Linked DNA regions of Homo sapiens: all the other regions are linked to region 1. Evidence: fine-mapped expression QTL. A gene starts in region 1. Each other region holds a variant in brackets. All regions are shown on one strand. Distances are from middle to middle. Region 1 holds the start of CTNNBL1 (catenin beta like 1). Region 2 overlaps CTNNBL1 (catenin beta like 1). Region 3 overlaps CTNNBL1 (catenin beta like 1). Region 4 overlaps CTNNBL1 (catenin beta like 1). Region 5 overlaps CTNNBL1 (catenin beta like 1).

Evidence for each region. PIP is the estimated chance that this variant, and not a neighbour inherited with it, causes the effect.
Region 2: its variant is the best candidate, but not a certain one, in a credible set for the expression of CTNNBL1 in prostate (GTEx, PIP 0.60).
Region 3: its variant is the best candidate, but not a certain one, in a credible set for the expression of CTNNBL1 in whole blood (TOPMed, PIP 0.61).
Region 4: its variant is the best candidate, but not a certain one, in a credible set for the expression of CTNNBL1 in whole blood (INTERVAL, PIP 0.74).
Region 5: its variant is the best candidate, but not a certain one, in a credible set for the expression of CTNNBL1 in thyroid (GTEx, PIP 0.66).

The regions. Positions count from the first base shown.
Region 1 is chr20:37,690,898-37,696,004 of GRCh38, reverse strand. CTNNBL1 (catenin beta like 1) reads right to left here and starts at 1,975. Exons shown (of 16, transcript NM_030877.5): 1 at 1,853-1,975. The coding sequence starts at 1,882. It overlaps LOC105372609 (a long non-coding RNA gene), which reads left to right and starts at 4,729. Exons shown (of 4, transcript XR_936703.1): 1 at 4,729-4,822; 2 at 5,055-5,107. RefSeq lists an enhancer at 1,638-1,697.
Region 2 is chr20:37,784,790-37,789,896 of GRCh38, reverse strand. All of the region lies in intron 10 of CTNNBL1 (catenin beta like 1), which reads right to left. Among named protein-coding and RNA genes, the nearest start is that of CTNNBL1, 93 kb to the right of the region's middle. RefSeq lists enhancers at 238-1,437, 3,153-3,652, 3,653-4,154. The variant G/A (reference allele first, on the strand shown) is at 2,492.
Region 3 is chr20:37,737,861-37,742,967 of GRCh38, reverse strand. The region is part of intron 3 of CTNNBL1 (catenin beta like 1); the gene reads right to left. Among named protein-coding and RNA genes, the nearest start is that of CTNNBL1, 46 kb to the right of the region's middle. The variant T/A (reference allele first, on the strand shown) is at 2,869.
Region 4 is chr20:37,796,192-37,801,298 of GRCh38, reverse strand. All of the region lies in intron 10 of CTNNBL1 (catenin beta like 1), which reads right to left. Among named protein-coding and RNA genes, the nearest start is that of VSTM2L, 100 kb to the left of the region's middle. The variant C/A (reference allele first, on the strand shown) is at 2,408.
Region 5 is chr20:37,757,606-37,762,712 of GRCh38, reverse strand. It overlaps CTNNBL1 (catenin beta like 1), which reads right to left. Exons shown (of 16, transcript NM_030877.5): 5 at 5,057-5,107. Among named protein-coding and RNA genes, the nearest start is that of CTNNBL1, 66 kb to the right of the region's middle. The variant T/C (reference allele first, on the strand shown) is at 2,939.

The DNA.
Region 1 (5,107 bases):
CTTTCACTATCAATTAAACTGTCTTTAAAAGAAAAATCTCTTGGCTATATAGCTCCCCATTGCTGAACTGTTCTTTCCCATGATGTCTTAAGCGTCCAGGGTCAATTTCTTGTACTTTGGCTGAGGGAGTGGTATGAAAATAACTGCTAATATTTACTGAATGTTTACTCTTTGGCAAGCATTGTCTAAGGACTTTCCATTTCTCAACAGCTTCACAACAGCCCTGTGAGGCAGCTACCGTCACTGTCCCCCATTTACAGATGAAGAAACCAAGGCAGAGAGAAATTAAGTATTTTGTTCAAGGTTACAGCAGCCAGTTAGTAGCAAAACAGAGACTGCCAGCAACCTAGGGGTCCAGACTCATGGCTCTTAATCACCTATTCTTGACTGCAGGGCTGTCTAACAAAAATATAAGCTGAACTATATATGTTGTTTTAAATTTTCTAGTAAACACATTAAAATGTCAAGAGGGGCAGTTAAAATTGGTTTTAAACATATTTTATTGGCTGAGTGTGGTGTGTGGTGGCTCATACCTGTAATCCCAGCACTTTGGGAGGCCAAGTGGGAAGACTGCTTGAGGCTAGGAGTTTGAGACCATCTTGGGCAACATAGCAAGACCCTGTCTCTACAAAAAATTTAAAAATCAGCCAAGCATAGTGATGCCTGCCTGCAGTCCTAGCTACTTGGGAGGATACCTTAGACCTAGGAGTTTAAGGCTACTGTGAGCAATGATTGTGCCACTGCACTCCAGCATGGGCGACAGAGCAAGATCCTGTCTCTAAATAACAATAAAATAAAATTTTAAAAATTAATTAAGTATATTTTATTTCACCCATTATCCAAAATATGATCATTTAATCAATATGACCAATAACCAATGTAATTGATATAATCAGTACGATCATGTAATCAATATAAAAATTTCACTTTTTCCATACTAGTCTCCAACCCAAATGTGTCTTTATACTTACAGTATTTCTCAATTCAGACTAGTCACATTTCAAGCAATCAACAGCCTATGTGGCTAGTGGCTACGACATTCGGCAGTGCAGCTCTACTGCTCCTCGCAATGACCCTCCTATGGAATCAAAGTGGGGGAAAAACTTTGGGGTGGAAGTCAGTACGCCTGAGCTCAAATTCCAGCTCCTTGTTTCTGAGTGACTTTGGACAAGCCCTTTCTGCTCTCTAGGTCCCATACAGTTTCCCCACAAGTTTCCTAGGCAAGGGGGACCCTGAGCAAGATTCCTAGAAACTCATTCCATGCTAGAATTCCCAACATCTCCTGCAAATCGCAGTAAACACAAGCACAGCTTTCCACACTTTAAAACCAGCTTTCATACATATCAGTTGGTACAGTCCTCAAACAACCCTACTAAGGCAGTTATTAGTGTCTCCACTATATAGATACAAAAACTTGGTTCAAAGAGGGGGGGAATGACTTGTCCAAAAGCCACATAGCCAGTCAGTGGAGAAGCTGGAGATCAAATCCAAGTGAGACCAGTGCACTCCCACCGCCGCCACCACCATCACCTCAATGACTGGGGGGACATGAGAGCTGAGAGGACATGGTTGTGAAAAAAAGGATAGTCTGGGGTTTCAGAGGAGTTTCAGGGAACCAGGCCCCAGGGTGAGGAAGAGGAGGTGAAGGGCTCAGGTCTTGAGAAGGGATGAATCGAAAGGGCCCAGGAGGGCTTCGGAGAGCAAAGTAAAACGAGGGGCTGAGACCCCGGGTGGCATGAGAAGTTAGAGGGCCCGGGAGTGAGGCGAGAGGAGGTGAGATGAAAGGGCTCTGGCTCCTGCGACCCCTGCCCAGGTGAGAACGCGGTCGCTCGGCCCTCCCTGCCCCTCATACCTGGTAGCTCAGAAGTTCGCCCACGTCCATGGTACCCGGCCCAGCAAATACTCCACTTCCCTGCACTCACGCCCAGACCGCGGGCCCGTCAGCCGCGGCTCCAGCCACACTGCCGTAAAGTGCGGCGAGCGGAGCCGCAGAGCCAATAGGGCAAAAGTGCGAGCGACAAGCGAGCCGGCCACACCGCGGTAAAAGGACGCGCCGCCGTAAAGCGCGCTGCATTTGGAACAGGGTTGCTTCCGCCTGGAGCCTGAGGGGGCGGGGAAAGGGGGCGGAGACTTAGAGGAGGGGCGGGAGGGGAGAGCAGGGACCAGAAGAAACCAAACTTGATTGCGCGTCCCTAGTGTCCAGGGCGGAGTGCCGGGTGTTTCGTGTGCGCTCTCACGAGCTTCCAGTGATTTATCCTCATTTCACAGAAAAGGAAACTGACGCTCCCAACTGCACCATCCAATACTTTACTCACTAGCCACATATGGCTACCGAGCGCTTGAGATATGGCTACTCCGAAGTGAGATGTGCCATAAGTGTAAATAAAATACACACCAGATTTCTAAGACTTACATTGATTACAGGTTGAAATGATATTTTGGATATACTGGGTCAAATTCATATATTATAAAATGAATTTTACCTGTTTCTCTTTACTTCTTAAATGTGGTTAGTAGAAAGTTTTAAATTACACATGTGGCTCTCATTTGTGGTTCCCATTAATTTCTATCAGATAGTGCTGGCTCAAAAAGTGACTTGTTCCAAGGCTGTACAACTATTACTGGCTGAGAAACTATTGGTGATCACATGTCCCTCTCTAGGCTTGTGTCTGCTCATCTATGCGAAGTCTAACGGTCACTAGATGATCCCCTTGCTACCCAGGTGATATAAAAAGGTTTCTGGAGGAGAAAGTTGCCCATAATTGGAAGAGAATCATTCAGAGTGCATCTGATCTTAAACAAGATCAGAATGCACCTGGGACTTAAGGCTCCATCTTCAAAGGAAATTAAACCTCCTTCCATAAGCCCCTGTCCTTTATATTTATAATTATATTTATGTATTATATTATATTTATATGCCCTTCATATTTATAATTTTGGTCCCCATCCCATCTGCACTGGCTCCAATTATACAGAAATTATTCTTATTCCTCAGAATGACAAATCCTCTCCCCTTCTGCCTGGCCATCAGCACCATACCTCATCCAATTCTCTCATCTTTCGGGTCTCAAATGTCACTTTCTTACAAGGGCTTCTTCAACTCACCCTGGTCCAGGTAATCAACCTCTCTCCTCATTATTCTTTTTCCAAGTACCTGCTCCACTACGTATATATCTCATTCTGTAATTTTGTGCTTAATGGTTGACTATTTGTTTCTTGACAGCCTCATTTACTGGATTGCAAGCTCTATGCAAGCAGGACATGTGTGTGTCATGTTCACCACTGTATCCCCCAAGCCTAGTACAGTGCCTGGTAGAGGGAGAGGTTTCATAATGGGCCTTGTGTGCCATGGTAAAGAGATTAGATTTTGGCTAGGCGTGGCCGGGCGTGGTGGCTCACGCCTGTAAGCTCAGCACTTTAGGAGGCCAAGGCGGGCAGATCACTTGAAGTCAGGAGTTTGAGACCAGCCTGACCACCATGGTGAAACCTCGTCTCTACTAAAAATTACAAAAATTAGCTGGGCATGGTGGCACATGCCTCTACTTGGGAGGCTGAAGCAGGAGAATCGCTTGAACCCAGGAGGCAGAGGCTGTAGTGAGCTGAGATTCCACCACTGCACTCCAGCCTGGGTGACAGAGCAAGACTCTGTCTCAAAAAAAAAAAAAAAAAAAAGAGAGAGAGATTGGATTTTATGCTAACGGCATAAGGAAAGTTTTAAGCAAGGTAGTTTTGTGACTGGGCTTATGTTTTTAAAGGATCACCTATGCAATCTGCATTGAATTCAGTCTATTTGGGTGTCTTTCCCCCTCCTACTTATATAAGAATATGGACTGTGCCCGGCCGGGTGTGGTAGCTCACGCCTGTAATCCCAGCACTTTGGGAGGCCGAGGAGGGCAGATCACGAGGTCAGGAGATTGAGATCTTCCTGGCCCACATGGTGAAAACCCATCTCTACTAAAATACAAAAAATTAGCCAGGTGTGGTGGCACGTGCCTGTAGTCCCAGCTACTTGGGAGGCTGAGGCAGGGGAATCGCTTGAACCAGGGAGGTGGAGATTGTAGTGAGCCAAGATGGCACCACTGCACTCCAGCCTGGCGACAGAGCAAGACTACGTCTCAAAAAAAAAAAAAAAAAATAGAATATAGACTGTGCCTTGTTTGGGAAGACAGGAGAGAGTAATGGTGAGGGTGTACCCTTTGGACCCAGACCCCTGTGTTCTAGTTCATGGTATGTTGATGCCAGCTTGCACAGACAGGTCTACAAAAGCCCATGGTTAAATTTGTAGGAAACTTGCAAGCTGATTGACACCAGGTTGATAGCTTGAAATCAGCCATGCTAGGAGTATTTGTACAATGTAAATCAGCAAATGCTACAAATCAGGGTTGTTAATGTTGTTGTTTTTCCAGAGAGCTACTTGTAGGGTTTTTTTGTTTCTTTGTTTGCTTTTGAGACAAGCTCGGGCTCTATCACCCAGGCTGGAGTGCAGTGGCGGGATCTCAGCTCACTGCAACCTCCCCCTCCCGGGCTGAAGCCCACCTCAGCCTCCCAAATAGCTAGGACTACAGGCGTGCGCCACCATGCCTGGCTTATTTTGTTGTTGTTGTTGTTGTTGCTGTTGTTGTAGAAATAGAGTTTCACCATGCTGCCCAGGCTGGTCTCAAACTCATGAGCTCAAGCAATCCCCCCGCCTTGGCCTCACAAAGTGCTGGGATTACAGGCATGAGCCACTGCACCCAGCCGAGCCAGTTGTTAAACATCTACCCAACACACCCTGATTCTGGTTCTAGTGGAAGTTCCACCATATCTAGCCATGGGTCCTTGGGTAAGTTACTTTCTCTGTCCCTAAATTACACTTTCCTTATCTGTAACATGACTCATTCATTCATTCATTCATTCAACAAGTATTTACTGAGAGCCTACTCAATGCTAGGCACAATTCTGGGCTCTGAGGATATGGAAGTTTATAAAACAAAGCTCCTGCCTTCTGGAAACCTACATTCTAGTTTGGGTGAAAACCTCATGGAGAAAATGTTGATATGAGTCTTATTTTACAGATGTGGAAACAGTGGCAATGAACTTCACCTCTACATGCCTGATTTTCTCACCT
Region 2 (5,107 bases), 94 kb before region 1:
CTTCTCTTTCTAACTGGAACAGGGTTTTACAGCAGAAGTAATAAGCTTCATGTCAACATTTTCAAGGAAACTGACAATATAATTCTTTTGTCTCCCACTGGCTCTGTTGCTCCTTACAGAACATTGAAGTATTCTGATACAAGGACATACTGTTAAAAAGTGCTTTGTGGTGGCAAGAAGCAAATGATTTAGAGTGCAGGCTATAATTAAACCTGATATATTGGAATCTTCTATTTGTAGCAACCATCTTACCAAAGAGAGGTATCTGTAACAAAGAAACGGAAGTGGCAAACCAGTCTCCCTCCAGGGACAATGAGGGCACTGTTACAGTTCCATCCTCATTTCCTGACTAATTCTAAAATGGCCACCCCAGGTAAGTATAATTTTGTCTTATTTTTGTGGATTGGAACCTCTGAATCTGATCACTTTGTTAAACAGCACAATAAATTGTGACTTTTCTGAATTTTATTTTACTCTCAAACATCACAGACTACAAAACTACCACTTCATTCATGTTCATATGTTAATTCTTCTGCTGCTCACCAAAGACCATCCAAACATCCTTACTGTAACCTAACTGTTGACTATCCAACTGAAAGAAGCAGGCTGAGCTGCCCGATGCACAAAGGAGCATTTCCTTCTACATCAGAGACTCTGGTCCTCTCCGCCTTTCAGTACACAGTTGTCCACTGCTTGAGAGGTTCTGCGTCTTCCACCCTTACCTCATCTTTTCTTTTCATTTATCAAGACACTAATGTGAGCAAATGAGAAATTCCTTTTCTTTTTTTTTGGTTCCTGTACTCTAGGATGGCTACCCGCTGCTTTCTTCACAGCACGAGTTCCACTTTTAAACATCACCTCAACAATCTTTTCTTCTTTTCCAAGATGTCTTCATCTGTCCTTTGGCAAAGAGAGAAAAACAAGAAAGCTTTTCTTCTTATTGATTCTGTCAAGCACTGTGAAATCCAGACAGTTTGAACACAGGAATGGAGAAAAGTCACCTGTGTGACAGGGAAAACTAGAGGAGAGAGGGCTGTGAGGTAAGGGCGAGTAGGTAATAGTGCTTCACAAACAGCTCCTGGAAATGAAAGCTCAGAGACTACAAATCTGCATGAAGGACTTCTTAGAACCTTGAGAAGAAAGGTGATAAGAACTGAAAACCTAATATAATCCTAAATACCTGGGAGGATAACGGAAGAAGAGAGTTGAAAGGCAAAGGAGAATAAGCTCATTTGGGGAGCTTATGCAGCTTCTGTTCTGAAGCCCAGCATGGGCACAGGCCAAACAGGGCAGGAGCCCAGGACTCGAGTGGACTCCTAGCCTCCCCTGAGCCTCAAGATCAGGATTACAACACACTATGGCCCCGTTTTGTGCTTTCCATGCACTGAAAAATTTGACAGGGAAAACAGAACTAAATATGTTCAGGCAAGAGACTGAGTTCTCGGCAACAGGCTTTTTAACTCCTCTTCCTTTGGGTCTATGAACACGGTTTGCCAAAAATTCCGTGGGCCAATGATCCTAAACAGCAAAATGTTTCTCATTAATTTAGAAAATTAAGAAACCAAACACAGAAAACCAAAGGTGTATCTTTTGCTAGATACTGGAGATACAGAGGAAGAAGACTCTGTCTCTACTCTGAAAAGTATTACAGTACAATTGAAGACACAGCCGTACAACTTACCATGCATGGTGCAGAAAGTGCTCTGACAGAGGCAGCAAAGGATGCTAGCACCCAACCTTCAAAACTTAGGGGTGGGGATGTGAGGACAGACGTGGGGGAAGAGACATGGAAGAAAATGGCTGCTTAGAGAAGTTTAAGCCTAAACATCAAAAGTGAGTCATCAAAATAATAATAATAACAAAATGTGTCAAGGGATCTAAAATAGTTTGGTTTAGAGAGTGGAATGTAAATGTGCAGAAAGGAAAGAATGAAAGAGATGGCAGTAGGAGGATGAGGCAGAGGCCAGATCTTGAGGGGACTAGAAACAATTTCAAACGTTCATAGACAAAGAAATAAAGCCACATTTCTAAAAAACTAAAGGTAATCACTAATAGAAAGAATAGTATTTTCCAAATCTCCAAAGAAGAAGGAAAATAATGGAAGTGAAAAAAAGATAAGACAAAACAATAAAACAACCAAGGAAACCATAAAACAAACAGGAAAAGGGCTAAACGTAATTACTATAAAATCAAATAGTTAAATTCATCTACTGAAAGACAAACTTTCACGCTGGATTAAAAAACACAGTTATGGGCCGGGCGCGGTGGCTCACGCCTGTAATCCCAGCACTTTGGGAGGCCAAGGCGTGCGGATCACGAGGTCAGGAGATCGAGACCATCCCGGCTAAAACGGTGAAACCCCGTCTCTACTAAAAATACAAAAAATTAGCCGGGCGTAGTGGCGGGCGCCTGTAGTCCCAGCTACTTGGGAGGCTGAGGCAGGAGAATGGCGTGAACCCGGGAGGCGGAGCTTGCAGTGAGCCGAGATCCC[G/A]CCACTGCACTCCAGCCTGGGCGACAGAGCGAGACTCCGTCTCAAAAAAAAAAAAAAAAAAACACACAGTTATGTGTCTTTAACAAGAGTTACACGTAACACAAAATGACATAAAAAGTAAAGGTGTGTGGTAGCAGGTGCCTATAATCTCAGCTACTTGGAAGGATCATCATATCCCAAGACTTCAACGCTGCAGTGCACTGTGATTGCCTCCTGTGAACAGCCACTGCACTTCAGCCTGGGCAACATAGTGGAATCCTGTCTCTTAAAAAAAAAAAAAATGCTAAGGATATAGGAAGGATCAGAAGAAACAGAAAAAAAAAAATCCACAACCATAGTTAGAGACTAAACAAATTAGGGGATAAAAAGGACAGAAAAGAACGGAATATGTTTACAAAGTTGATTTATGTTATAATTATAGTACTTTATACCCTAGAAACACAAATTCTATTCAAATGTTCACGGAATATTTATAAAAACTACCCAAGTATAAGGCCACAAACAAAATCTCAAATTCAGAAATGTATTTTATAGCCTCTATTTTCTGTTAATGTAATAGGAAAATAAGACTTAATCACTTGGGAATAGAGAATAAAACTAAGCAATATTAAAAGGAGATTTTTTAACCTGAAATGTTTTTATTTTTAAATAAGAGAATTATTTTTTAAAGCATTAAGCGTTTAACTCACAAACTTGGAAAAAGGGCAACAGAATAAACAAAAAAGTAGAAAAAAAGAATTAAAGGCGGGGGAAAGGTATACAAATATACAAAATGCTACAAGCATTGTAGACCATATATATACAAATACACATATGCATATTTATATCACACATATATGCATATATATATATATGTACACACATACATATGCATATTTATATCAAAACCAAGAGTTGGTTCTCTAAAAAAAGATGCCCTCCAAAAAAAACAAATCCAATTGGTGCCAGCTCAGTCGCAATAGAGTAAAGCATCAGGTAGATTTCTAAGGTTCCCAAGTCCAGGCTCTGGCTCTCAGATGGCATCTGTAGAGCTGCCTGGGGCTGGGGGGAACTTGCTGTCCTGAAGGGAAGGACACAAGCCTGGCTGGACTTGCCACCTGTTGACTGTAGAGCCTTTGGGCCATGAATGAACACAGGCAGCAGCCAGGCAGTGGTCAATGTGAGCCTTGGGTGAAACCAAGTGCTGTGCTGGCTTCAGGAATGACCCAGCACAGTCCCAGTGGTGGCCACAGTGGTGCTTGCTTGTCTCACCCCTCCCCCAGCACCAGGCAGCTCAGCACAGAGAGAGAGAGAGACTCCACGTGTTTGGGGAAAAGTCAGGGAAGAGAACAAGAGTTTCTGCCTAGTAATCCAGGGAATTCTCTTCGATTTTACCCAACACCACCAAGGTGGTACCTCTACAAGTCTACAAGAGCCAGAGTGTTACTGAGCTTGGGATGCCCCCTAATGCAGACACAGCTGCTGTGACCAAAGACTTAAATCACAACACCCAAGACTCTCTAAATACCTGGAAAGCCTTCCCAAGAAGGATGAATACAAACAAGCCCAGACTGCAAAGACTACAATAAATACCTAACTCTTCAATGCCCAGACACCGACAAAGATCCATAAGCATCAAGACCGTCCAAGAAAACATGACCTCAACAAATGAACTAAGTAAGAGACCAGTGACAATGCCAGCAAGACAGAGATATGTGAGCTTTCAGATAAAAAATTCAAAATAGCGTTTTGAGGAAGCTTTATGAAATTTGAGATAACACAGAAGGAACGCAAAATCCTATTACATTTTACGGATATTGAAATAGTTAAAATGAATCAAGCAGAAAAATGCAACATACTGAAGAATGCATCAGAGTCTCTTAACAGCAGAACTGATAAAGGAGAAGAAAGAATTAGTAAGCTTGAAGACAGGCTATTTGAAAATACAGTCAAAGACAAAAGAAAAAAAGAATAAGAAAGAACGAAGCACACCTACAAGATCTAGACAATAGCCTCAAAAGGGCAAATCAAATAGTTACTGGCCTTAAAGAGGAGATAGAGATATTGGGGTAGAAAGTCTTTTCCAAGGGATAATCAGAGAGAACTTCCCAAACTTAGAGAAAGATATCAATATGCAAGAACAAAAGGTTACAAAACCCCATCAAGCAGATTTAACCCAAAGAAGACTACCTCAAGGCATTTAATAACCAAACTCCCAAATGTCAAGGATAAACAAAGGATCCTAAAAGCAGCAAGAGAAAAGAAATAATATATACAATGGAGTTCCAATATGTCTGGCAGCAGACTTCTCAGTGGAAACCTTACAGGCCAGGGAAGAGTGGCATGACATATTTAAAGGGGAAGAGTGGCATGACATATTTAAAGTGCTGAAGGAACTATATTTTACCCTAGAATAGTATATCTAGTGAAAATATCCTCCAAACATGAGGGAGAAATAAAGACTTTCCCAGACAAACAAAAGCTGAGGGATTTCATCAACACCAGACCCATCCTACAAGAAATGCTAAAGGTAGTTCTTCAATCTGAAAGAAAAGGATGCCAATGAGCAATAAGAAATCACCTGAAGGTACAAAACCCACTGGTAACCATAAGTACACAGAAAAACACAGAATATTA
Region 3 (5,107 bases), 47 kb before region 1:
ACTAGGTGTGGTGGCGCACACTTGTAATCCCAGCTACTCGAGAAGCTGAGGCAGGAGAATTGCTTGAACCTGGGAGGTGGAGGTTGCAGTGAGCTAAGATCGTGCCACTGCACTCCAGCCTCGGCAATGCAGTGAGACTCTGTCTCAAAAAATAAATAAATAAAGTAATTGAACGATTGTTAGTCACCTGGAGGGGTCTGTCCTTAGGCCTGTTTAGATCAAGTATTTTATTATTTTTTTTTAATCAATAACATGAGCAAAGATAGATAAAGGGCAAAATGAAAAAATGTTATATGACACAAAGCTTAAAGAGACAGTAAGCACAGCAGCTGACAGAATCAATTCAAAAGTTCCTGACAGGCAATAATGATGTGCCAAATCTAACCAAAGGAAAAATACCTGGGATCCACACAGAAAACTGCAATGAACCAAAAAGTCAAGTACAAATGTAAAGGCTGGGAGAGATACAGTTTCATAAGGGCACATGTGTTTCTTTCTGAACTTGATGGCTTTATTGAACCATAACTGTAATACAAATCAGAACATGAGCCAGTTCTGCCAGAGACAATTTCTTATTCATCTCTGGACATCCAGCACCTGACGCAGGCCTTGGTCCAACACAGAAACTTGGGAGATGCCTGTAAATGGGGGCACAGATGAAAACAGCTGCCACAAGTGCTACGGTGGTTTTAGGGTACTTAAAAGAGGACAATACAGAGTTATGCTGATTCAATGACCCTAAAACTTTGTGACATCTGTTCAAGGAACCATCTTTTAGGAGGGATGTGGAAACCAATTCAGGGAAACAACCAAGATTCTAAGGAGTCTAGATACATCTCATATAAGAATTTGTTGAAATGCTTTCTCATTCTGAGTTGAAATTTTAAGAGTCAAAGCTGCCAAATGATGGAATAGCTTTCTTTGGAAAGTTAGATCCTTCTCACTGGGATAGTTAATAAAGGATGACATTAAAAAAAAAAATACCAAGAGTTAGATGGTAGAATAGACTGTGCTTCTCAGTTCCTTCCAACTTTGAAATTCTTCTTCCAAATATGGTCTTAACCCAGTGCTTTTAAGTTTAGGAAGTCAGAAAATTATCAAAATAAAACAAACAAGCAGAGAATAAAACTGCAAGCAGGGAAATATTACAAAAATATACTGGGTCCAGTGTTATGTGAGTAACAAGATACCGTGAGAAATGCTGGACTTGGGAATGAGACTGACCTGGGTCATACTCCCAGCCATGCTATTTACTAGAGGTGTGGCCATGAACAGTGAATTGACAAATATTTACTAGGCACATACTAGGTGCCAGTCACTGTGTTAGGCACTGAGGATATAACAGATAAAATAATCCCAGTTTCTGGCCTCCATTAAATATAAATAATCTATTACAAACCATTAATTATAAGCATGCCTGGTACTACCAAGAGAAGTGTCACTGGAACACAGAGCGTGGTGTCCCAACCTGATCAAGGAAGACACAGAATATTAACTAACTTATTGCTAGACCCTGATTTCCTTATCTTCCTATAGTGAGGATTAAAAGAGATAATATATATACAGTGCCTAATAATAGCTGGCACATACAAGTACTCAATGAATCTATGTACCCTCAAGTTTGTTATAACAGTCGTCTTCTGTTTTGCCTGACCAAGCACAGCCTACTCATGAGCCTACTCATTTAAAGCACACACTACTATTTGCAGAGAACTGTCTTTAGGAATTAGGCATACCTTCAGCAATAGATGACTCACAGCTGGGGGAAAGGATAAAGTTAGAGGTGACGGGAAAGCAATAGAGCAACATATTAAAACAGTAACCCAGGCTGAGATGGGGTCATCGATTCCATCTAATATGACAGAGAATATTTTCCTAGGCTGCCCATGTGCATTTGCTTCAGACCAGCAGGATATTCTCCTTCAACCACAAGGGTGAATATCAGCAAATGACCAGCAAAGTTCAAAAACACTGGGAAAGCCACAGAAATTGGTAAGTCCTAAATGCAATCACTGCTGGGGGAACATGATGCTCCCTCCATCCAAGTAAATCAGCAGTTCTCAAAGTGTAGTCCTAGGACCCCAGGATGGGGTAGCGGGGTGGCTGGAGATCCTTTCAGGGAATTATAAGATCAAAACTATTTTATAATAAATCTAAGACACCATTTGCCTTTTTCACTCTCATTCTTTCAGGAGTGTACAATGGAGTTTTCTGAAGGGCTCCATGACATGATGACATCACTGCCCTGATGGCTAATGAAATGTGTGCTTGTCTATTCTTGTATTTGCCAGAATTTTCTAAGCACTTTGGGATATTCAATAATTTAAGAGTACAAGGAGATCCTGAGACCAAAAAGGTTGAAAATCAGTAAACTAAGTAATTCTGTCCCTGCAAAAATGAAGAGAAGAACTATTAAAGGACTTTCTAGGGAAACAGCACACTCTAGTCAATGTGGTGTTTAGGAGAAAGATCAGGCAGTGCAAATTGGAGGGTGCATAAGGAGAACTGTCAACTGAATCTCAAATGCAGTCAAATGAAGAGAGGCATTTTTGGGTATGCGATCAAAATGACAATTGGATATATGGGAAAATAAATTTGAATGTTTCTGATCTCAACCGGAAAGTTTCATCCGAATACACTCTAGCAATTTTCATCTTAATTTCACCTCGCTGATCTAGAGAATTACGAAAGACACTGCACCAGTGAGAATTCAAGAACTCAAGGTTAAAACACAATGTAGTTTCCTAACTGCTTTTCGACATGAAAAAAAAAAGTTCTTTATGCACAATTTCAATTTTCATATGCTCAGATTTTAAAACTAAAATAGTATATACATTTTGTCTGAATGGAAAACACTACCGATTTTTT[T/A]AAATAAAATCACATTGTCTTAAACCCAGTTAATGAACTGTAACACTAAGGTACCTAAGATGTAGATGGTGAACATAACCTGCAGAAACTCTGCTCCAAATTGAGAGACGTGTATCTACCAAGCGGGCGAAGGAAATACTGGTGTTCAAAGAAGTAAACTGAATTTCTTAAATTTCCAGTATCATTACCCGCAGCATAGCTTCCTCATAATGTATCCTTAGGTTCAAGCAATGGGGATGTAATAAAGACGACAGGGACTACATGAGCTCTCTCATGTTTACTGAACACCTACAGCAAGGCAAGTACTGTGGTAGGCACTAGAGACAAACAAGACACCGTCCATCTCCTAAAAGGAACAGAGTCTAATGCAGGAACCACTGAGTACAGAAATAACAACAAAACAAATGGCAAAGATGTTAAAGACTGATCACATGCATTGTGGGCAAGAACACAAGAAAAGAGATGCTGCTGCTGGGGGGAGAATTTAAAAATACAGTGAGAAAATTGGCAGTAGCTATCATTAAAATGTACATACCCTTCAATCTGGGAATTCAAAATTTAGGTATCTATCCTATGGAAATATATGCACACAAAGACACATGTACAAGTAGGTTCACTATAGCATTTTTCATAAAAGCCGATTTTAAAATAATCAAATGTCCATTAATAGAAAATAATTAAATAAGTCATGGTATTTCCAAACCATGAAATACTATGCACCAATTAAAAAAACACAAGGTAGATATGCATGTACCACCTGGACAGATCTGTTAGATGACCCAAAAAATCAAGGTGCAGAATATGCACAGTATGATTTAAGTAGAAACAAATACATTTGCATAATTAACTGTTCACAAGGTTCCTCTAGGCAGAGGAATGGAAAGGGATCAGAGTAGTGAAGGAAAACTTTCATTTTTCACTCTACTCATGTACCACTGGTATTTTCAGAATGACAATCTATTCATGCATTACTTGTGTAATTACACACACACACACACACACACACACACACACACACACAGTGCTCCTGTATGGTGGAGATCAGTACAAAACCTGATAGGACTCTAATGCTGGATAAGCTGGGCCCTGATCTATTAATAGCTACTCCTACTATCAAAGAGGGCTGTGGCCCTAGGCCCAGTAACCACATTCTCCCCACTCTGCCTTCTCATCCACAGCACAGGGACAACATAGTTGACCACGCTGGCCTCTCTAGGTTGCCATGAAGACTCTGTGCCCGCTGACACCTCTGTGCCTTTGTTCATGCTCCTCATATTGCCTGGCATGCCTTCCTGTGTTCTTTTCCGCCTAATAAAAATGAATCTTCAAGGCCCAGCTCAACTACTATCTTTTCTGTGACACCCTCAATAGCCCCCAACTTGGTATTTACTGTTTCTTCTCCTATTATATCTCTTTTAAAGTGTCTGTTTCCTTCTACCTTGCCTTTATAGTCAGTCTCCCTAGTAACCTAAAAACTTGAGTGCAAAGCCTGTACTACTCAATTGTTAATTGCCTGGGGGCCTTGGGCATATTAAGATTCATTAAAATTGTATGTCCTGGGAGGGACAAAGATAGGGAAAGAAAGAGAGGTTTAGAACATTAAAATCGTATAAATGTGAAAGTCCCCTTGGTTAGGATTCAAGACTGACTGAAAGATGCCAGATTCCTCACATAGCACTTCATAGTGCACCAAGGTGCCAGTGTAGTAAAACTCACGTTAACTATCATCTCATGGGCACCTACTATGTGCCAGGTACTAAGCTAAACACTTACATTATTCTCCTTTAATCTTCATACAACCCTGTGAGGAAGGCATTATTTCCTTATACAGATGAGACACCCAAGGCTAAGAAAGGGGAAGTAACTTATTCAAAGGGATGTGTGTATCACACCAATATCTGTCTAACTTCAGAGCCTCTGAAATGATCTCCACAGTAAAGCTATCACTAACGGCAGGCACGATCAGTCTTCTTTGGGCACTGAAAAGAATAATGCAGGAGAGTTAATATGTTAACTGCGGGGCTGATCTTGAAAAGGGCTAGCTTACAAGGCTGGCCCTAGGCTGGCAGCCAGGAATTTGGCTTTTGAAATGTTCCCTAAGTGATAAGGTTGCTGCTTTGTCAGCCCGGGGCACTGAACAGCTGCTTTCCTTCCAGGAGCCTACAATTTTGGTTGTTATTGTTATTACAGGCAGAGAATGCCTACATGACCAGTCCTCCATAAAAACCCTGAACTCAGA
Region 4 (5,107 bases), 110 kb before region 1:
AGAAAACAGTAAGAAATGGGTTCTGCTTCCAAAAAAAAAAGCTAAATCTGGGGAGACCAAAGTAATATGAAAGGATCAGAGAAAAGTATAAATCAGCATATAATTTTCCCCATGTATTATTCAATCTACAAATATTTACTGGATAACTCTCACATGATTGGGAAAGATTGCGTCCCAGTTCTCAAGCAATTTACATTCTCAAGGCAGGAGACAAAGAGAAATTGAGATACCTGATAATGGTTAGTGTCAAGGAAGTAAAACGAGGACATGTGAAGGAATGACTGGCGTGGATCTCTTAGATTCAGTTATTAAGGAAAGCCTCCTAAGGAGTAACATTGTGTTGAGAACTGAGTGATAAGATGAATCAGTCATGTAAATTTTAGGGGCAAAACAACATTCAAGACAGGAGGAACAGCAAGCACAGAGGTCCTGAAATAGAAATGAACTGTAGACAGGCGACTGGTGTGTTTGAGGTACGCCAAGGAGCAGAGTGTTCCTAGCTTCGATCAGGGAGGGAAACATGGGCTGTATCAAAGGCCACAAGGCATCCAAGTGAAGAAGTGATTCCAGGAGTAAAGTGGATGCAATTCAACATGTTGGTTCTGAGATTGCCATGTGTTACATTAAAGTGAGAGAGACAAATTACATGTATTTGGGAGAGTGTGGGGAAAGAATAATATACATGTAAATATTTAAAATAAATGAACAAAAAACTAGGTAACAAAATAATAAGTACAGTGGGCACACAAGCAGGGAATACTTTAGTTAGAGGAAGGAGACAGTTTCTGAAGAGATTCCAGTCTGTCAAAAAAGCAAAATAAACGGCCACCAGATTTCACCATCAGGAAGCCACTAGCAACCTTCCAGAGAGCAGTGGTAGGGCAGAAGTGGAGTGAAAAGTAAAAGGAGGTGAGAAAGTAAGAAGGGTGAGTGTAGGTTACGCCTTAGTAAAGCCTGGAGGAGGAACCCCAAGAGAGGGAAGCCGGGTCAAGATTTAAACTACTACTTTTAAGAAAAGCTAATGGTGATGTGGAGACCAAAGATAAACAAGGGAGAAATAAACAGCTGGAGAGAGGTGACTGGTCTTGCAAGAGAAGGCAGTATTCATCAAAAACAGGGTAACAACCCAGAGCCTTTCATCCAATTTCTCATGTGAAAGCCAAAGAAAAGGAATCAGAAATAATATCCCCTTTGGACAGTCTTTTGCAGACACAACACTATTAAAACCCTGCACTATTAAAGTGCTACTGGTCACAAAGAGTGCTATCCTGGGTCAGACTAGCCAGCCAGGACTGGGTCCCAATAGTGGAGGAAAGGTGAGTAGGTACAAAGCTTGCTGATAGTGCCCCTTGGAGCTACAGGCCATCCTGGTTTACTTAGGACTGTTCCACTGAAAGTAACACATCCCAGACTTCTCAATCCTGGGCAAAGAGAGAGCGTTGGCCATCCTACTTCATGCTAACCTATTCCTATCTTTATTTCCCTTGTGGATCAATCAAACAATACAAAGATTCACAAATGCCCATCAATCCAACTACTGAGTTTCAAAGAAAAAAAGGCATATACTATTGAGCATATGTCTTTATGCAGCAGACATTATGCTAGCTGCTAGGAGTTATAAGGTCCTTGTCTTTAAGCAATGTAAGAAGAGGTAAATAAAAATGCTTTCAAAAGTCTGAAGCAATGGAAATTAAGTCCAAGATGATGAGAAGAGGAGATAATTTGCCTTGGGAGAAGTCAGTGAAGGTGTCAAATGGCAGGTGACTTCTGCACCGAGTCTAAGGAATGAGTATTTGCCAGGCAGAGAACGAAGAGCAAGGACACTGTTGGGAGTGGTGGCTGTACAGCATGTGCAAAGGTGTGTGCAGCCTGTAGGAGCGTGCCAGCCAGGGAACTAGAGGTAGTTCCGAATGGCCAGTGGTGGAAGATGACTGAGGAGAGGCGGCGAGGAACACGGTCATGACAGGCTCCACACGTGCTGTCAGGGAACCCAGGCTCCATCCTGTAGATGTCGAGAAGGCATGAGAATTTCAAACAAGGGAGGGCCCTGGACAGATACATTTTAGAAGGCTTAATCTGGCAGCAATGTGAAGAAGGGACGGGAATGACACCGCTTGGGGGTAAGGGAGGACAGTTAGGAGACTCTGGCAACAACAAAAATGAGAAATGACCAAAGGTTCTGACTACAGCAATGGTATGAAAAAGGCCTATTTGAGAGAAGCATGAAATCTTAAATATGAGGAGCCAGGTAAACAAGGCTCCAAATTCAGTACGAAGGGATTTTTTGTATTAAGATGAAAATTCTAACAGAGACTTGTTTTCACTGCAGCTGGACTTCAGCATCTTACAAGCTTGAATTTATAAAAGTCATGACTAGGACAGATAACCATGTGAGCAAAATTTAGGA[C/A]ATTGAGATATAATATCTGTATTGTTTAGTCACTCAGGAAAAGGCCTCTTGAAATGAATGGCGGTCATAAAATAGGGCACCTTCAGTTACCATTCAGCATACGCTCAAACCATTTCACAAATAACACAGAACTGTTTGAAATACAATTCAAAAGACTCTGGTGTAGCCAAGCCTCTCTTTTTTTTTCCTGCCTAAGCAAATTCAACAAACAAAAGATTTTAAAAGTAAAATCCTTCTTGAGGTAGGCAGTGTAAGACATGTTTAGAGGGGGCAGTAATTGCATATTGATCACCACTTAGGCAAGCAGCATGGAGGTGAACTTTGGAATATTCACTGGGCTTGAGTTCAGGCTTTTAGAAATCAATAGCTGTTTGGCCTGCCTTTCTTGGGTTGACTTTATTTGAAATATTTATTCTACTGGAGGACAAGTAGTTTATCTTAGTCTTGTCTGGGTTCATCAGGCTGTCGATCACGCCAGAACCAATGTGAATGCTAGCCTCTATAAAACTGGGGGGTTGTGGGAAATGGTGGAGAGTCATCCACTGCTCCCTATTCTGCTAACAGTGAGCCTTCTGATGTGGGAGAAAACGTTTTCTGTTGTAGTTTTAATTAGCTTATTCTTCTTTATTATGCAAAAACACTTTTGCTATAAACACAGATTCTGAGTATGATTTTCTTTGTTCATTTGTTCCCTCATCAAATATTTATGAGGTACCTAGCAGGTGCCAGATATTAAGTCCAGGATGCAGAGACAAGGCACAGCTCATTGCTTCCAAGGAGTCTGGTCCACAGGGGAGACAGACATGCAGAGAATGGGCAGACTGAGAAAAGCTAAGTCCTACGGTGGAGGTATATACAAAGCAGAGTGAACGCAGGAAGGAGGGCTGACCATGTCTGAGTCAGGGAGGACTTAAAAAGGAGATGATGCCTGAACCAAGCTGCAGGGGATGTTTTTCTTGGATACGCAAAGAGGGAGAGGGTATTTCATGCAGAAGGAAACAAGAGCACATGCAAAGACAGGCGTTAAGCATGGGACATTTAGGGAAGTGGAGCATGGTACTGCTAGAATATAAAGAGTAAGAAGAGGGGCAGCAGCAAAACAGAAGACAGGCTGACTTTTGTGTATAAGAAAGATTATGCTTGCCACAGTGTGTTGGACAGTAACAGGGATGGGGGAGCAGAAGGAAGAGAGAAACAATATCAGAGGCAGAAAGACTGGTAAGAAAGGCGGGGGTGCGAAGGGTTGAGTTCTGATTGAACCTGAGATGCCTGTGGAACACGGCGTGATGTCCAGCTTGAACTTTTATGTCTGAAGCCCAATAATGAAGTCACCAATAGGGAAAATTTTGAAAGAGTCATCAAATCTATGTGCAGTAATTAATCCATGGTGTGAGTAAGATTACCCTGGGAGGGTACAGAAAGTATTCAGAACAGAAGACTAGGACCTTGAAGGAAACTTATTTGAAGGACAAATGAAAGAGGTAAAACCCTCTCCTTTCCTGGACAAGGGAGACTGATTAAAAAAAAAAAAAAAAAAGCAACAAGGTGTTCTTTAAAATATTCTGTGAACCATAAACTAATCGTGGCAAGAAATACAGATAATGCCACATGAGATCATATTTTCTTTGCTTTACAACGTGCATGATGAAGTTCACTTACATTAGAGTCTGAAATACAAGATCACTTTACAGGATTCAGGATTTCTATGAATTAGACAGTAAGATCAATAGGACCACAGCCAGAGGGTGGGGTGGGTGGAAAAAGAAAAACAGAAACAAAAAATAAATAAATAATAAATACGACCACAGGCAATTTCAAGTTACTAATATGGTATCACTAAATGCAGTGATAGGAAGAGATGTGCACCATCAGCTCTCATGAACCTACATGAGCCGGCTCCAACACATCACTACCCATATCACCCCCACCGCCCGCCACAGACTTCACACTTGGCCATGTGACTGTGCACAGCCAATAAACCGTGAATGTAAGTAACATGTGCACTTCAGAGGAGAAGTTTTAAGATTTATTGCATTATGCGGTCTCTTCCCTCTACCATGAGACAGGCATGTACCATGAAGCACTGCTCCTTCAGCCTGAGTCCTGAAATAAAGAAGGTGTAGAGCTGAGCTTCTGACGGCCAGTGATGAATGAACCATGAGTGAAAAATAAACACCTGTCATTGAAAGTCCTTGAAATTTTGGGCTTCTTATTCCAACAAATAACCATGTTATGACTGAGGCCTGATATGTGATAGAGCAAAGTTGCTAAATATAAGATCAATATACAAGTTAATTGCATTACTACCCACCAGGAATAAAGAATAAGAAAATGTAGCTTAAAAAGTGTCATATACTGCTGGACTTCCACTCTGGGCCAAAATGGGGTAACAAGGACTGGATTTACACCCTCCCTAACCCTGAAAGTTAAAAAAAAAAAAAAAAAGATGAACAAAACAATGGTTTTTAGACACTTGACATCAGGAGGGTAACACATGCAATGAGCCCAACTGACTGCCTGGAAAGTTTCCAGGCCTCAGAGAAGGGAGGAGACAGAGCTAGGAGTCCGGCAGAGCAATGCAGCTAGAGTTCACAGCAGAGAGCTGCACGGAGATCTGCAGAGGGCCCCTTCCAGTCTCCAGAACTGACAAGCGCAAGCATGTGAGGAAACTAATCACTACTGCAGAGAGAAGCTGCCTAA
Region 5 (5,107 bases), 67 kb before region 1:
ATCGCTCAGTAAAAGTACATATTAGCATTCTATTCTATTCCCTCTAACCCCTTGGGTCTACCTTCAATTTTCTGGACCTGTGACAAAGTCTGAAACTAAAAACAAATCCTGCTTAGGGATTAAAGCATCAGCCAGGGCAACCCTTGCCTTGGAAATCAGGACTGTCTGGGGTGTGATGTTTTCTGCTAAGTCATTTGTTATTTCTGATTGTTAGCAGGCATCCCAAACAATATTCCGGGAGTTAAAGTTCAAGGGCATGATCACACATCATCTTCCACTTGACCAAAGAGGATGGATATAAGAGAAGAGGAGGAAATAAAAAAGAGACAGATGAGAGGGTTTGAAGGAGGCTTCTTTTTCTATCTGGTACGATCTGCCAATAAGCTTTCTCAAGAATGAGATTGGGATTTTTCTGCCTACTAGGAGTTTCAGGAATTTCATATTTAAAACACAGTAATAACAATAAAACCCCACACCCACTGAATCTTGATCAAACAAGTTTTGAGAATAATATGGTAACATGGTCATAATGCAAAACTCAGGCCTGTTGTATCCTAGCTGTAACCTTTTAGCTTCCATTCTTGCCCCTCCAGTCCATTATCCACACAGCAGCTAGATGCTCTGTTTAAAATGCTGTCAGGCTATGACACCACTCCCCTGCTTATATCTTCTAATTACTTCCCTTCACCCTGGCAATGCCACCCAACCTCTTCACCAAGGCCCACAGAGCCCAGCGTGGTCTGGCCCTGACTCTGCTTTCTCCCCTCGCCCCAGCTGCACATTAACAAGACTGGCCCCTTCTCTGTTCCTTGAATATGTCAACCTCAGTCTTGCCTTAGGTCTTCTGCCCTTTTCCCATCCTGCTCTTGATCATTTTGAATGGCTGGTTTCTTCCAGAACTCAGGCCTTGCCTGACTATTTAATCCAACCTGACTTCCCAGCTACTCTACATCACATCACTCTATTTTAATTCTCTTAAACAGAGAACCACTCTCTGATAGTTTTCTTGTTTATGTATCTACTGTCTCTCCCTACACTCATACCTTGTGAGCTCCACAAAAGCAGAGGCTTTGTCAGGCTTGCTCACAGCTATATAGCTGGTTCCTACAATCAGGAACACATCAAGCATTCAATAAACATTTAGTGAACAAATGAACAAATGAATTTTGCTTTGGAACAAATACAGATGAAGGTGAGAACATGAATGGAAATGGGAAGGAATAGAATCCAGGAATTTTCATAGTAAGTACCCTTACAGCAACATAAACCTGGCCAACCTCAGCCTCACCTGGGCAGCACAAATCCATTGCCAACCAAGTCCAAGGCAAACCAAGATAGGGCTTCAAAGTTTAACATTTCAGTAGAGTTAATTTAGTGCAGGAATGAGTATGGAGGGTAGTCCCCTGGCAGTCCACATCAAAGCCACTTTTTGTGGAACTCTATAAAGCGTTTCTATAAAGCAAATGCTGGCTCCTAGACACTGGCCAGCTACACCACCCAGCCACACTTCCATCTCTGTTGGCTGGGACACCTCCATATGCTCTCATATTAAAGCCCCCTTTCAGAGGCCATCACCGATGCCTGCATCTCTGCAGCCCTTCCTGATTATTCCATCAGAAGCGAGCACTCTCTCTTCATGTCCACAGAACACTGCCCCTCTCATAGCTGTTTTCAATGTTCTGCCTTGTATTATCATTACTTACTTCTTCCTTTTTTTTTTTTTTTAAACTAAAGCTCTATCCTCTCATTTCTTATTTAGGCCCACCCCATCCAAATGTGGTTTTATTGAGTGTTTGTTCAAAATGTTTTTGAAATATTTTTTAAACTGAAAAAAATGTTTGTGAACTCAATATTCACAGACATCTCACTGTGTGGTAGATGATACATACAATTTTAACCTGACATTTGCTAAATGCTTAATATCTGCCAGGCATAGTACCTTTATAATGATAATGGCCAACATTTATCAGGTGTTTACTCTGTGCCAGACTGTTCTAAAGACTTATTAAATATCTCACTTGTTCATCACTTTGGTACTGTATGATAGGCACTACTGTTATCTCCATTTTACAGAGAAAGAAACAGTATGGAGAGGTTAGTAACTTTCCCAAGGACACAGAATTGGTAAATGACAAAGTCACTGCTCTGACCACTCCCCTGACGGGGATCACACCTCAGGAAGGACAAACTTATAAACAGACATCTATAATCCAATGTGACAAGTGCCAGAATGTACAAAGTGCTAGAACAACACATCCTGCTGAGGTGATGAGTCTGGAAAAAACTCAAAAGGGAAGAGATAAAGGGATGAGAGGTAGTATTCCAGGTAGCCCCAGAGAAGCAAGGCTAGGCAAGTGGAAGGCAAAGCATGAGCGAAGGCATGGGACTACCTAGCACATGGCAAGTTTGGGGACTGGCAAGTAGAAAAATGACTGTAATTTAATCATCATTCTCAAGAAGTCCAAAGTCATCTTTGGAGAGGTAAGCCAGAGAATTGCCATCAAAGCAATATACCCTCTCGCTTACCACTCTTCAGAAAAGAGTCCATTTTCCAGGCTACCAGATCAACTTGTTACAAAGCACAAATATTTGCCTTTTGCGTAAGTAACAGCAGTGGATATGAACCAAATTTTAAAACCCCGAAGATCCCTGAGAATGCCAGGACAGTGTTCTTTCCCCACAAATGTGCCATCCTATTGCTTAGGACTTCCAACTGGGAAAAAGACCAAAGCAATAACTGCAAACTGCACACCACAATAAATTCTGCCACATGCCCTCTAGCCTCTGCTCGTGCAATTCTAGGCCTCAGATATTGGCCTCAAATTAAAACTACAAAGACAACTCAACCCTTGTAATATGAGAGTACTTATCAAATTTCTTCCTGAATGCAGCCAAGAGTAAAAAAAGTAAATGGAAGACCACCGCTGGTTCTGTTCTC[T/C]GATATTTACTGATGACTTCCGACTGGTTGCAGACAAGCAAATAATCTACTGGAGTCCAGGAATGTTCAATGCTTGTGATTCCTACCAGCCCCACCAGGATAAACCTGTAAGAGTCAAAATCTTAAACTAATATAATAATAATAAAAATAAAAACTAAACTAAACAAACAGAACATCCTGTATAGCAGTTACCTAGTGGCTCCCCAGACTGAGGGTGAACTGTTTCTTTCCAAACAAACAATAAAATCTGCCAAGATGCAGCTTTTGTCAGTGGGCTTGACAACACAGAAAAAACAAAGGGGGCTTTTGAGTGAATTGCTGTTTCTGGGTATGTTTTACATGCAACAGCCAGGCTAGCTGTTCCTCTCTCGTCTTCCCTATTCAGACAGGCAAAGGATGGTAATTAAAATCAGCCCAGGGACCAAGCAGGAAGGCTCATTCAGGGCCATGTAATTAACCTCTGGAAGGTAAGACTGCACAAACGACACTGCAGGGACACAGAGTAGGAGCAAGTGCCACAGTCTTTCCTCAGACGCCCCTCAAAACAAAACGACATCCCAACATCATCCTCTTCTTTCTGCACAGTGGTTCAAACGAAAAATAAATGCCCTGAATTCTACAAAAGTAGCAGTTTGCTCTCTAAAGGAGCCTGAAAGAAAAATGGCCATAGAAATTTTCATTATATTCGGTCATAAATGGCCCTGCTGGACACTAGCCTCACTCTCTGTAAGAGCCAGTTCTTCATAACCAGTGGGTTCACAACCCCTTCATTCACACCAAATGCCAACAGCAAGCACGGCACATGGGAAATTTCTAGTGTCGAGAACATTATGAGAAAGGGTGAGGAGGGGGTGGGCAGTGTAGCAGTGGGGTTTCGGGATCATCTGGGACCCCAGGCCCAGCCATTCTGATTCAGTGGGTCTTGGGTAGGACTAGAAAGTAGCCAAACAAGCAGCCCAGGTGCTTCTAATACTAGTGGCTGGAGTAATCTTTGATCAACTGCTAACTGAGTCAAAACCAATACTAACATTCTTACCAGAGAGAAAAGACAAGAGAAACAACAGAAGAAGAACAATCCACAGAGCCTTGAGGAGGGATACAGCTCTGCAGGTGGACAGAGCTCCACAGGTGGTATCAGGGTAGGGGCTGGACTAGATGCACTTCTGCCGCTGGCCAGCTGGGGTGCCTTTGCAGCTTTGTGGCCCTTTCTGATCACCAGTGAACTGGGGAATCTGGGGCAGTGGAAACAGAATTGTGTTGGGGATCAGAACATGCAGTCTCTTTTATCAGCTGTCACAGGACGGGCTGAGCGACCCAGCGGGAGGCTTCACTTCTGCAGCTGGGTTTCCTCACATGTAAGGCAGTTTGCCTAGCTGGCACCTGGTCACAGCTGCGCCTCACAGACCAACTCCTCTGGGTTAGCTGCTGTGTGGATCAATAGCTAAGGAACATTCTGAGGCCTTGCCTAGGCTCCTCAAAAGATGGCAGAAATCAACTGCCTTGTCGTCTACAGGCAGGGAATGCCATTCTGGCCTCAATGAGCTATAAAGTTTGTTCTTATTTTCGACATTCTCCAATTCCTCTCTGATGACCTATCTGTAAAATAAGTAATAATAATAATACCTGTTCTCACTGGCACTTGGGATTAGAAAGTCCAGATGAGAAAAACATTTGTGAAAGCTCTTTGTAAAAAGGTCAGTAGCAACAAAAGAGAGGAGGGAAGAAAGGGGCAGAAAACATAGAGTCTAGGAGACCACAGGTTCAAATCCTGGCTGTGTGACCATGGGCCATTTGTTTGGCCTAAGTCACAGCTTCATGGCTGTAAATGGAAATAATAGCAATAATGCCCATGTGAGAGGATGTGGTGAGAAGAATGAGAAATGGCCCTGCCCACAGCAGAGACTTAATAAGGGCGAGGCCTCTACCTGACACAGTCCCAAAGCATAAAGCACTGCCCCAGCCACATCTCTACTTTTTTACTCTCCTTATTCACTCCAGCCTCACCACACTCCAGCCTTGCCGTGGAGTTCCACCTGGTGGCCACTCTCCGAGACGATGGTGGTGGCAATGCCAACAACTTATACAAACCTGCAAAACCCCAGAGGATGTGCAACTTACCAGAGCATCGATGAGCACTTCTGCTCCCTCTTCACTCTCATGGAGGGTGTC